Homo sapiens: one gene and its partner. The protein of the gene in region 1 binds, or shares a complex with, the protein of each later gene. Each region holds a gene or a part of one and is shown on either strand. Other genes may lie near its edges. The genes, in order: IZUMO1 and IZUMO1R. A codon is read from its position in the direction of its gene.

Region 1 (3,843 bases):
CCTGGGGGAATTGATCCACAGGCCCACGGGGAGATGAAGCTTCCCGAAGCGGGGGCTTCCGCCCTCCTTCCGTTCACCAGACAGCATGGCCCTAAGGGAAGGCGGGTAAGGCCCCAACTCCTAAGGCATTCTTGTGGGGATGGGGTGGAGGGAACCTGGACTCCGAGTCAGAGGGAGGAGGGGGCTGGGGCTCAGACTTGCGAGTCCAGGGGGAGGAGAGGGATGGTACCCTGGATTCCTGGGTCCTGGGATGGAAGATGGCTGGGGGACTGAGTCTTGGGGCCCAGGGAGGAGGGGTTTGGGCTGCTGGGTCCCTGGCTCTTACCCTGCTTCGGGTCCGGCACACCCGGAGGCCCTGGCTCCACTGGCCTGGGTCAGTTCCACTGCTCTTGCCTCTGCCACGGCTCCCAGCACTGGGTGGGGGACAGGAAAAGGCAAGAGGAAACCCGGCAGGAAGAGCGGGGAGGGGGCGTCCTGTGAGGAGACCAGGCCTGGGGGAGGAGATCTGGGTAGGGTTGGCCCTGCCCCATTCCTTGATTCTGGAATTACATCGCAGTCAGTTGGTCCCCTCCAGGACCCAAGGGTCCCGGTTTTCTGCCCTTCCTCCCTCAGGCCGGAGCCCATCCCCAGACCTCTCCTCTCGGGGAACCAAAGGCTAGAATCAGTCCCGTCCCGGGGAGTGAGTCAGATGCTTAGACAACAAGATAAATCTTTATTGTTGCCTCGAATCTGTGGCCTTTTCTTTTGGGACCTGGGTTTGCTCGGCCGCTCCACTGCCAAGGCCAAACAGTGAGGATTTGATGAAATCGATCACCTTCCTTCGACGAAATATCCTAGGGGTGGGAGTGGGGTGCAGATCATGGAACCGGTTTGGGTACTAATTGTGTGGGGGACACCCCTCCCAACCTCCCCCTTTGTGACCTTATTCTAGCAATTACCTAAGCCTCGCCCTTCGAAGTCCTCCTATTCAAGCCCCCCGCACTCCATCCCCAGGAAAGTCCTGCTCTCAGGCCTCAGTAGCCCCCAGACCAGCTTCTGTGTTGGGTTCCTGGAAGCCCCGCCCCTTACTCCAAGCCAAGCCTGTCTTCTTCAATGGGTTGCTTACGCAAAGGTAAGGCCGGTTATCAGTGCTAGGGAGCCGCAGATCAGCAGCCCCAGAAGGCGGCTTGCCAGCATTTTCTCGGGCTGCAGAGGCTGGAGGCTTATGGACGACTCCGTGGTCGCCTCCCCCGGGGTTACGATATTTGGAGAAGGTTTTTCCTCCTTGATCATTTTGGGCAACACTGTTAGAGAAAGCGTAAAGAGCAGTCCTGGCAGGGCGTGGAGTTCCTGCCCTGGCAAAGACAAGCCCGTCCCAGTAGCCGGCCATCCCAGAGATAATCACGCCTTCAACAGTGTCAAGCCTGAACACACCCAAGGGAACCCCTGTCCTCGGGGCCAGAGGCCACGCCCCCGGCAGGAAGCCACACCCCGTGCCCCGAAACCACACCCAACAGGAAGTCACGCCCCCATCGCCAAGGCCACGCCCCCGCCGCGGACCCCAGCTTTCCTGGGCCCTGAATCCTACACTTCTCTCAGCCCCACAGCACTGACCTGTGACGTGAAAATTGATGATCGTGGCTGGGCTGGAATTCACAGAGCCCAGCTCGCAGCGGTAGCTGCCTGCATCCTCTGGACCCACCATGGGCTTGGTCAGGGTGGCCTCTTTCCCCTTGGACACCAAGGTCTCCGTATTGTTCCCCCAAACCTAGACCCAAGCTCAAGGGGTCACTGAGGCCTGAGGAATTCAGGGGTTGGGGGAGTACAGGGGTGAGAAGATCACAGGGCCTCAGTGTGGGAGGTGAGTGTCCAGGGTGTCACTGGTCAGGGCACGGGGTCCCCAGAGGTCTGTAGAGACCACACCTAATAGACCACCCTCCTGGGTCATGAGAATCGTGGGTGCAGGCCCATAGATCCAGAACACAAGTATTGTAGTCTAGGGAGTTCAAGGGTTACAGAAGTTGAGGCCCTCACCCTGTAAAAGCTGTAATCAGTGAGGCCTTCCGAAGCCTGATGCCAGTTTAACTCACAGTCCAGGATCATGTCTTCCATTTGAGGAACTTCCACATTCCGCTCTGGGGGTGGGGGATGACCATGGGACACTCATGATTCTGTTTTTGTTTTTGTTTTTGAGATGGAGACTCGCTCTGTCGCCCAGGCTGGAATGCATTGGCGCGATCTCGGCTCACTGCAACCTCCGCTTCCTGGGTTCAAGCGATTCTCTTGCCTCAGCCTCCTGAGTATCTGGGACTACAGGCGCTTGCCACCACGCCTGGCTAATTTTTGTATTTTTAGTAGAGATGGGGTTTCACCATATTGGACAGGCTGGTCTGGAACTCCTGACCTCAGGTGATCTGCCTGCCTCAGCATCCCAAAGTGCTGCGATTACAGGCATGAGGCACTGCGCCGGGCCTCCTTCACGGTTCTTTACCCTCCCCTAATCCTTTACATTTGTTGTAACCTCGTCTTTTCTCTTTTCTTTCTCTCTCTCTTTTTTTTTTTTTTTTTTTTTAGATGAAGTCTCACTCTGTCACCCAGGCTGGAGTGCAGTGGCGCGATCTTATCTCACTACAACCTTCGCCTCCTGAGTTCAAGCAATTCTCTGCTTCAGCCTCCTGAGTAGCTGGGATTACAGGTGCCCACCACCATGTCTGGCTAATTTTTTTGTATTTTTAGTACAAAAACGATGGTTTCACCATCTTGGCCAGGCTGGTCTTGAACTCCTGACCTTGTGATCCACCTGCCTCGGCCTCCCAAAGTGCTGGGACTACAGGCGTGAGCCAGCGCGCCCGGCCTCTTTTTTTTCTTTTTAGACAAGGTCTCACTCTTTTGCCTGGGCTGGAGTGCAGTGGTATGATCATAGCTTACTGCAGTCTCCAACTCCTGGGTCCAAGCAATCCTCCTGCCTCAGCCTTCCAAGTAGCTGGGACTACAGGAACGCAACACCACACCTGACTAATTTTTAAATTTTTTTGTAGAGATAGAGTCTCGCTATGTTGCCCAGGCTGGTCTCAAACTCCTGGCTTCCCAATCCTCCCGTCTCAGCCTCTCGAAGTGCGAGACTATAGGTGTGAACCACTGCACCTGGCCTAAACCCTACCTTTTCTTGTCTACTGCCCCCACACCCCCATCTAGGCTCTCTCTAGACTGCCTCTCCTCTCGCCCCACCCCACCTGCACCAATTCCTCCTGCTGGGTCCAGTTCTCTCACCCCCGCAATCGTAGGACTTTCGACAAGCGTGAACCTCCTTTTTGCAGTTCTTGCACCAGATCAGAGTTTGCAACATCACACCTGGAGGGGCAGGGTCAAGGCTTGTATTTGCCCACTAAGGGGCATGGCTAAAAGGAGAGGTCAGGGCTAAGGGCTGGGGCCAGATCATCTATGACATTCCTAGATGGTCAGACGAAGGCACAGGACCAGGACGCAGGTAAGTAGTAAGTGGGCTCCAACAAGGCTCAGTAAAGATTGTAAGTAGAGGCCGGATGCGGTGGCTTACTCCTGTAATCCCAGCACTTTGGGAGGCCGAGGCGGGCGGATCACAAGGTCAGGAGTTCAAGACTAGCCTGACCAACATGGTGAAACCCCGTCTCTGCTAAAAATACAAAAATTAGCTGGGTGTGATGGCGGGCACCTGTAATCCCAGCTACTCAGGGGGCTGAGGCAGGAGAATAGTTTGAACCTGGGAGGTGGAGGTTGCAGTGAGCCGTGATCGTGCCACTGCACTCCAGCCTGGGTGACAGGGTGAGACTGTCTCAAAAAAAAGAGTGTAAGTAGAATATGACCTGCTCCCCAAGAAATCCATGG
Region 2 (7,650 bases), on another chromosome or scaffold:
TGGCATGGGCTAGACTGGGTGGGACTGCAGTCCCTAGCCCATGCCACTGCTTTTAGGGGAGGGCCTGAGGAAGGAGGTAGGCCATGGCCTGGCCTGACCCACAGTTGGTGGACATGCAGGAATGTGAGTGGGAGAAGAAGGGCTCTCAGGAAAGGAACGGCAGGAACAGGGAGCAGACCATGATGGTGTAGGACAGTTCCCAGGATGGGGCAGAGCTGGCGAAGAGGCGGGCCACGGCCACATTGGGGTTGCCCTGAGCAGGCTCAAACCACTTCTGGAGACACCGCCCACTGTTCCGTCGCTCAGGGCTGGCTTTGAAGGAATTGCTCCAAGTCTTCTCACACAGGTCAGCTGGGGTGGGGAAGTAATGGGAGAAAGGGAGGCACTGGGCCCCTTTGGGGCAGCGGTTCTTCCCTGCAGGGGATGGAGGAGGGACAGCTTACCTCCTACTCCCTCATTGCTAGCCTTTGCACCTGCACCCTTGTGGGGACCACCAAGGGGCCTCTTCCCGACCAAGGCCTTGTCAGCACCACTCACCCTGACTCCAGTCCCAGCCACCACGCCAGTTGGATTTGCATGTGTAAGACATGCGACAGTCTTCCCACCACTCCTCACAGTCCTCCTGGCACAGCGGCACATTCACAACTCGCTCTCCCTGCCCACTCGGGGCCACCTGGGTGCAGTCATAGCCAGAGATTAGAACATTAATAGCAGAGATGTGAAGACTACTAATAGCTACAGTGGTATTTGTACCAGGTACCATATGTACATCATCTTCCATAAAGCCTCTAAGTGTTATTTTACAAATAATACCAATGAGGCTAAGAGATTTAATAGTTTGTCCTGGGCTATACAGCTGGTAGGGACAGAACATGAGACTGAAGCTCAGGTCTGTCAACTCCACCAAGCCTCCTGTGGTGATAGCCCCTCATCCCACTGTTGTCAGAACAGTCTCCCCCATGTGATTCTCCAGCAGGGGCCTCTGGCTCTGCTCTTGTCCATAGGGAAATAACACCTCCTGTTCCTACTAGCATCCTGGCGGCATCAGCATAAGATCGGGTGAAAGCTCTGGCTGTTAATATAATAACAGGGCATGGCACAGATCTGCTTCCTACCTCCCACCCCAGGCTTCCCACTGGCTGGATCCAGGGCCCCAGGTTTGGGGAGCACTCATAGAAGCAGATAGCCTGGATGAAGTGCTTCCGACAGCCAGGCATCAGCAGTCCACAGTGAAACAGGCTGAAGTTGTAGAGTGGGGATACATCCAGATGGGCTTCCCAGCTTGTCGTGAGGGTGCAGCAGGCATTGTCCTTCCAGGGGATGCACTGAAGGCAGAGGAAGAAACAAAAGGCCCAGGCAAAAGGGGCAAGGATCGGCAAGTGTCTAGGGAAGAAAGGTGGTGAAATGAAAATGTCCCTTAGGAGGCCTGAGCAAGTGGGATGCCTTTAGCTAGTAAGCCCCTACATAAGAGGAACCCTGATAATCTCTCAATATTTACCCAAAGGGCAGAGGCACCTGCACAATGACCCCCTGCCACAGGCTGCTACAGTCCTCTAGAAACACAACTTCTGGGCTCTCAGCTCCTGAGAGGCAGCAGAAGCCTTTTAGGGCAAAGCAGGTAGAAGAGCCCCAGAGAGACCCAGGGGAATCTGGGGTTGCATTGGGTGGGAGGGTCTCATAGGCCAAATGCCAGCTGTGTTCTTCCTCCCATATCCCTGGAAATTGCCTTTAGGAGCTTGGGGAGGGGTCACATAAGTCATATGTTGCCCCAGGACCTGTTGGCAGGAAGGCTTGTTTTCATCTGTGCCGAGTCAACAATGGATCTCTGGGATCACCAGCGGTCCCTGCTTTCCCAGTGGCTAGAGCAGCTCAGAAATGGGAACTTTGAATCGCTTGGCTCTTATGGTCTCAAAAAGGCATAGTCTCTTTCCATCTAGTTGCCTTTGCTTAACTCCTAACCCCAGGAACCAAATGATCAGGGTTGATGAGGTTCGGAGACCATCTTGGCATTTGTGTCCCTTCCCTGATCTTCCCCATCCCATACCCAGGTCTGGCCTCTGTACCTCCTCATAGAGCTTGTCTTCTGGGCTGGGCACTCTCTTGTGGTGTTTGGCATTCATGCAGATGTTGAGCAGCTCGTCCCCAGCCCAGGTGGGCATGACTGTCCACAGCTCTAGCAGGAGCGGCCACCAGCATGCCATGGCCTGCTACAGAGAGACCCATGCTGCACACTTGATGGAAATGACACCCCACTCCACCCCCTTCATCATAGCAGGCACTGGGAAAGGGGGATGGGCTTCAATCTCCCTCAAATAATTGCAACACTCTGGCTGCTCCTAGGACCTTCTTTTGGAGGCAGCATCACAGAATGTCAGGGCAGGTAGAATAATCCTTGGAGGCCTGACACAGTGCTGGAGGCCTTGCTGGCCCTGCAGAGCCAGGGGCATGCCGAGGCATGAGTCAGATAGGAGGAGCCTTCTACATCCAAAGCCTGATCCCCATCACAGGAATGAGGAGGAGGGCCCTTCCTATTTCCAACTCTGTTCTGGGTAGTAGTGGTAATGAGAGGTAGTGGAAAGAGAGACAAAACAAAGCAAAAGGCAGAGGGGCCCCAGGCCTCAAGCACCCAACCTCTTAGGACACAGGGCCCCTCACCTTCATAGCCCAGGAGCCCATGGCTCCCCCAGTCCCCCAAGTCTGGCAGGAGCCTGACCTGGACCCATCATGGTGAAACTGGAAACTTCTAGCCTACCCTGGTCTAAGAGCCTCAAACATCCTGGGGAAGAAGAGCCCAGCCCCCCTCTTCAGAGCCCAACCTCAAGTCCAAATCTAAGGCTGTTCTCTCTCCAGACAACCAGTTTCAAGCTCAGCCATGGCCTTGAATATTTTTAAAGAATCAGATCTGTTAGGTAAAAGGAGGAAAGATGCTGCCCCTTCCAGCACTCTCTTCATACTCACTTTCAAGGCAGGAGCCTTCAGGTGCTCCTGCTCCCTCCTCCCCCTGAGACTATGAGGCTGAGGGGAGTTCCATGTCCCGCCCATTTATTACCCAGTCTGATTTCTACTAGGTCCAGGTGCAGGAGGAGAACTCCACGTGGCTCTCATTAAACAGCATCTGTCTCACCCAGCTCTGCAGGCCTGTGGGTTCCGAGGAAGTTTGCTTCCTCAGAGAAACAGACCCCATCGTAGGCAAGATCCGGGGCTCTACAATAAGTTACCGGGTTCGGCTGTCAGCTCTGCTACTTACTAGCTGGCTGCCCTGGAGAAAATGACTCAAATTCTCTGTCAGTTTCTCTCTCTGTAAAGGAAGTTTTTATTATGGGATTGGAAAAATAAAGAGAAAGTTCATGAACAAAAACCTTGGCATTGTGCCTGGGATAGAGGAAGTCTTAATGGTTTTAAATTTTATTCTTTTATCCTCTCTCCACACGCCCCTCCTATGTTCTGTTCCGTAGCTCTACCTGCCCCTTCACTGTTAGCCAAGCATCAGCTCAGTCACCTGGTGGCTTTTCTGACAGTGTCCTCGCACAGCCCACAGGAACTATGGTCCCTGCTGGAGCACAGACCGAGGACACAGGATGCAGAGATGAAGTGTGGCCTTGGGGACCCAAGAATTTAAACATACAAACAAAGCCAAAGCAAACAAAACAAAGAAAGTCCCTCCATAACCCGCCAAGCAGCCTCCCTTAGCATACAGGAATCGTTGTCCTGTGAAATATTCTACAAGTGTTCTCAGCAGTGATCATATTTGCAAGACTATCCTTTTCAGCTAAGGAGAGATTGGAAACTTGGATAGGATTCTTGGGAGAGTCCCAAAGATGATAAAAATGCTGGAAAAGGAGCATATTTCTTTGTTTTTATAATATGTCCTCTCTTTCTCTCTCTGAAAGAGAAGTAGCTGAAATCACTGAAGTTTTATTGATACAAAGGAAATGAAAACAAAACACTAAAAGCGTTTTTTTAATGGAATAAAATACATTCTGTGGTGTTCAGCTACAACTGATGTGTAAAGCATATACTAATGTTGGAAAATGACATTCTCCACACCTGGGTAATCACAGCCACTGAATGCTGAGCACAAACAAGGAGCCAGGCACTGGCCTGGTACTGTCTACAGGATCTGAGGTCTCAAAAAGACCTCCAATATGAACACCCTCCTTGTTTTAGCTGTGGGGAACTGAGGCTCAGCGGTGAGTAGCAGAGCTGGGATATAATTTCAGGTATTCTCGACTCCCTATCTAATGCTTAAGGACCAGGTGAGGGAGAAACCTCCGGGACTAAAAGAGTAGATACTGCCTGGGTGCCTGGGTCTCAAGTGAGGTCTGCTTTTTTTTTTTTTTTAACGTTAAATGCCATAATGAGGTTGTGCATGTATTGGGAGGCGTGTGTTGGCTTTATTCTAGAACAGTGACAGTTATTAACCCAGTCTCCCATGTCCCCACGTTAAGCAGAGCCTGGAGTCTCCTCCTTAGGGTCAGATACCAAATGGTAATAGCATCTCTATAGCCTGACAGAGGGAGAAGCAGGCTGTCATGTTCTGTTCAGTTCCTCATGAATATTCAGGAAGCTCCAAGCATTGATAAGGTAAGAGATTTGGGGTTTAAGGTTCAGTTTAAAATGGCTGTGGAGGTGCCAGAGCCGAGAATCCAGACATGAATCACAAGAGTAATTATTGAAATGGAAATAGGTCCTCTGACAACTGTCCTTCATAGGGTGTGAAGAAGGACGAAGGGCGGCTTGCTTGATAACAGTCTCCAGGACAAAGCTGTAGGAAATGAGCTAAAATTGCAGCCAGCGCATATGCAGGTGGAGGGAGGGAGGGAGGGAGGGAGGAAGGAATTACCCAGTGAGTGAGGCTGCCTTTCAGAGAACCATCAGGCCGGCCAGCATCTGCTCTCGGGAGATGCAGCTTGAGACCCTTGAGCAAAGCTCATTTTTGCCTTATTGTGACTGAGCCTTCCATAGCAATCTGTTTTCTGACTGAAAGCAGATAAGTCAAAGCTGACTGTAGATGAAGCAATTTGAAGTGGCTGATTCAAGACAATTTTTATTCTAAAACACACACACACACAACAAAACCAACACTTGCGTTTCCAAAAGAAGAGGTACAGCAGCCTTCAGCGGGCTCTGAGGGAGGACAAGGAGGGCAGGGCAGTAGGTGAAGCAACCCAGCCTTGGCTCTGGTTTGGGGCCACTGGAGATGCTGGGCAGTGATGACTTCCTTCCCCTCTCCCATCCTGAGGTCACTCCCCCACTGAATTTGAGAACAGACTACGAAAGTGAAGAGCTAGAGCCAGGAGTCTCCTGGTGAGAATCTGATGTCAGAGGCCAGCCGAAGGGGACTTCAGTGATTCAGAGTTCTTACTGGGTCTCATGAATTCTTCTCACCCCAAACCTGATTGACCATCCTCATGTAAACTCTTAATTGGTTTCTGTCTAGGGAGGTAAATAGGGATATTAATTTATTCTTCACTCTATGTCTATCCAATCGCCGAAGCTGTTGATTTAACTTTCTAAATATCTCTTGAATTCACATCCCTTACTTACTGTCTGGACCATGATCGGCTCTTGCCTCAGTTACTGCAACAACCTCCTAACTAGCTCTCCCACCCTTTTCCAGAGCTTTAATCAAGTAGCAGCCATAATGATCTAATTTCTCAGAATTTTTTTAAATTTGTATAAATTTAAGGGTATAAGTGCAGTTTGGTTACATGGATATATTGCACAGTGGTGAAGTCTGTGCTTTGTACATTGTACTCATTATGTAATTTCTTATACCTCACCCCCTCCCGCCCTTCTGAGTCTCCAACATCTATTATTCCATGCTCTATGTCCATGTGTACACATTATTTAGCTTCCACTTTTAAGTGAGAAAATGCAGTATTTGACTTTTTGTTTGAGTTGTTTTACTTAAGATAGTGGCTTCAGTTCCATCCATGTTACTGCAAAAGATACGATTTCATTCTTTTATATGGATGAATAGTGTATCATTGTATATATTTTACCACATTTACTTTATCCATTCATCTGTTAATGAACACTTAGGTTGATTCCAAATCTTTACTATTGTGAATAGTGCTGTAATAAACATAAGAATGCAGGTATATTTTTCATATAATTATTTCGTTTCTTTTATCAGTATTTTAATTATGAAAGTTTTCAAACATAAAGTTGAGATAATTTTATAGTGAACTCTCTCTCATATGCCCACCACTTAGATTTCACCATTACCATTTTATTATATTTTCTTTATTATATATTTAGCCAACCATCCTTCTCTCTATTCAGGTATCAGTCTTATTATTTTTTATGTATTTCAAAGTAAATTGCAGATATCAGTAAACTGATGTCTTCCTAAGTAATTCAAACATGCATATCATTAACTAGGGTTCAACATTTGTTTGCAGTCTTTGTTTTTCAGAATGATCTTTTAAAAATGTAAAGACAATTATGATGCTCCCATGTTTAAAACCTTTCTAGACCTTAAGGTAAGTCCCAGGTCCTTAACATGGCACACCAGCCCTTTTAAATGTGGTTTTTATTTACTTTTAGATCTTAATCTGTTGTACTTGCTCTCATTGATGCTCTGGGCACTCCTGAGGCCTGACGGCCTGTCATTGTCCTGCCGCTTGCAGGGGCCCCACTTCCAGGGCTGTTCTGTCATAGCCCAGCCTCTGTGTCTAGGGATACATACCCCTCAGCTCTCAGAACTGAAGGCTTCCTGTCAGGGAAGCTTGTATGGCCGTCATGGGCTGGTGAGATGTCTCTTGGAGCTTATGCTGCTGCAGTCATTGCACATACCTCCTGCCCTTGGAAATGAATGCCTGCAGACAGGCTCGACATTGCCTCTTCTGTAAGCAGCTCCAGAAAGACAGTAATAGTCACAGGGTCAAACACAGTCCCTGGCCCAGAGTGCATACTCTGCAATTTGTTGTCTGCAATGAGGAGAAATACCCGAGTAGAATAAAACTGCATTTCTTTTCTTTTCTTTCTTTCTTTTTTTTTTTTGAGACAGACTCTCACTCTGTCGCCTAGGCTGGAATGCAGTAACACAATCTCGGCTCACTGCAACCTCTGCCTCCCGGGTTCCAGCGATTCTCCCACCTCAGCCTCCCTCCCGAGTAGCTGGGATTACAGGTGCACACCACCATGCCCAGCTAACTTTTTGTATTTTTAGTAGAGATGGGGTTTCACCATGTTGGCCAGGCTAGTCTCAAACTCCTGATCTCCAGTGATCCACCTGCCTCGGCTTCCCAAAGTGCCGGGATTACAGGTGTGAGCCACCATGCCTGGCCCAAACTGCATTTCTTAAAAACATAGTTTTAACTCAGACCCTTCTCTAGTTTAACCTGACGTATCCCATCTCTCTTTTCTGCCTCTCTTCTTTCCTGCTGCTGAGTGTAATAGCTCATAACTGAGGTTTGTATGCAGTTTTACAATATGCAATTGTTCTTGATACATTTTCAATCCACCCAGCATCTCTTCCTGGAATACTAATTCAGACACCTCCCTAGTTTAACCTGACCTATCCCATCTCTCCCTTTCTCCTGCCTTCCTTCCTTTCCTCTCTCTCTTCTCCTTTATCATGTGCTCACCTATCCTTTTCTCTCCAACTTAAGGTGACCTCTCCTTTCTCCCTCTCCCCATCCT

The links.
Region 2: the proteins of IZUMO1 (region 1) and IZUMO1R are in contact, whole or in part, in a crystal structure (PDB 5JKC), measured with the Homo sapiens proteins. Residues at the interface, in NP_872381.2 of Homo sapiens: Met75, Val77, Tyr134, Val141 (codon at 3,328), Leu146 (codon at 3,313), Trp148 (codon at 3,307), Lys150 (codon at 3,301), Asn151 (codon at 3,298), Lys153 (codon at 3,292), Glu155 (codon at 3,286), Val156 (codon at 3,283), His157 (codon at 3,280), Ala158 (codon at 3,277), Arg160 (codon at 3,271), Lys161 (codon at 3,268), Ser162 (codon at 3,265), Tyr163 (codon at 3,262), Asn239 (codon at 1,633), Ser240 (codon at 1,630), Ser241 (codon at 1,627), Pro242 (codon at 1,624), Ile245 (codon at 1,615); in NP_001186135.1 of Homo sapiens: Lys42 (codon at 2,078), Tyr44 (codon at 2,072), Glu45 (codon at 2,069), Ile48 (codon at 1,322), Leu58 (codon at 1,292), Trp62 (codon at 1,280), His65 (codon at 1,271), Leu66 (codon at 1,268), Asp67 (codon at 1,265), Gly80 (codon at 1,226), Leu81 (codon at 1,223), Leu82 (codon at 1,220), Met83 (codon at 1,217), Pro84 (codon at 1,214), Gly85 (codon at 1,211), Arg87 (codon at 1,205), Ile91 (codon at 1,193), Met145 (codon at 589), Ser146 (codon at 586), Tyr147 (codon at 583), Gln171 (codon at 388).

Annotation. Positions count from the first base shown.
Region 1 is NC_000019.10:48,740,196-48,744,038, forward strand, and holds the end of IZUMO1 (izumo sperm-egg fusion protein 1 isoform 1 precursor), read right to left. Parts: intron 3,331-3,843; coding exon 3,250-3,330; exon of another isoform or gene 3,213-3,249; intron 2,115-3,212; coding exon 2,014-2,114; intron 1,778-2,013; exon of another isoform or gene 1,748-1,777; coding exon 1,594-1,747; intron 1,284-1,593; coding exon 1,106-1,283; intron 834-1,105; coding exon 713-833; 3' UTR 657-712; downstream 1-656. Other genes in the region: RASIP1 (ras-interacting protein 1), read right to left, coding at 1-87. UniProt on the Homo sapiens protein: Essential sperm cell-surface protein required for fertilization by acting as a ligand for IZUMO1R/JUNO receptor on egg.
Region 2 is NC_000011.10:94,300,188-94,307,837, reverse strand, and holds the start of IZUMO1R (sperm-egg fusion protein Juno precursor), read right to left. Parts: upstream 3,259-7,650; 5' UTR 2,959-3,258; intron 2,218-2,958; exon of another isoform or gene 2,208-2,217; 5' UTR 2,202-2,207; coding exon 2,064-2,201; intron 1,326-2,063; coding exon 1,116-1,325; intron 674-1,115; coding exon 538-673; intron 415-537; coding exon 146-414; 3' UTR 1-145. UniProt on the Homo sapiens protein: Receptor for IZUMO1 present at the cell surface of oocytes (oolemma), which is essential for species-specific gamete recognition and fertilization.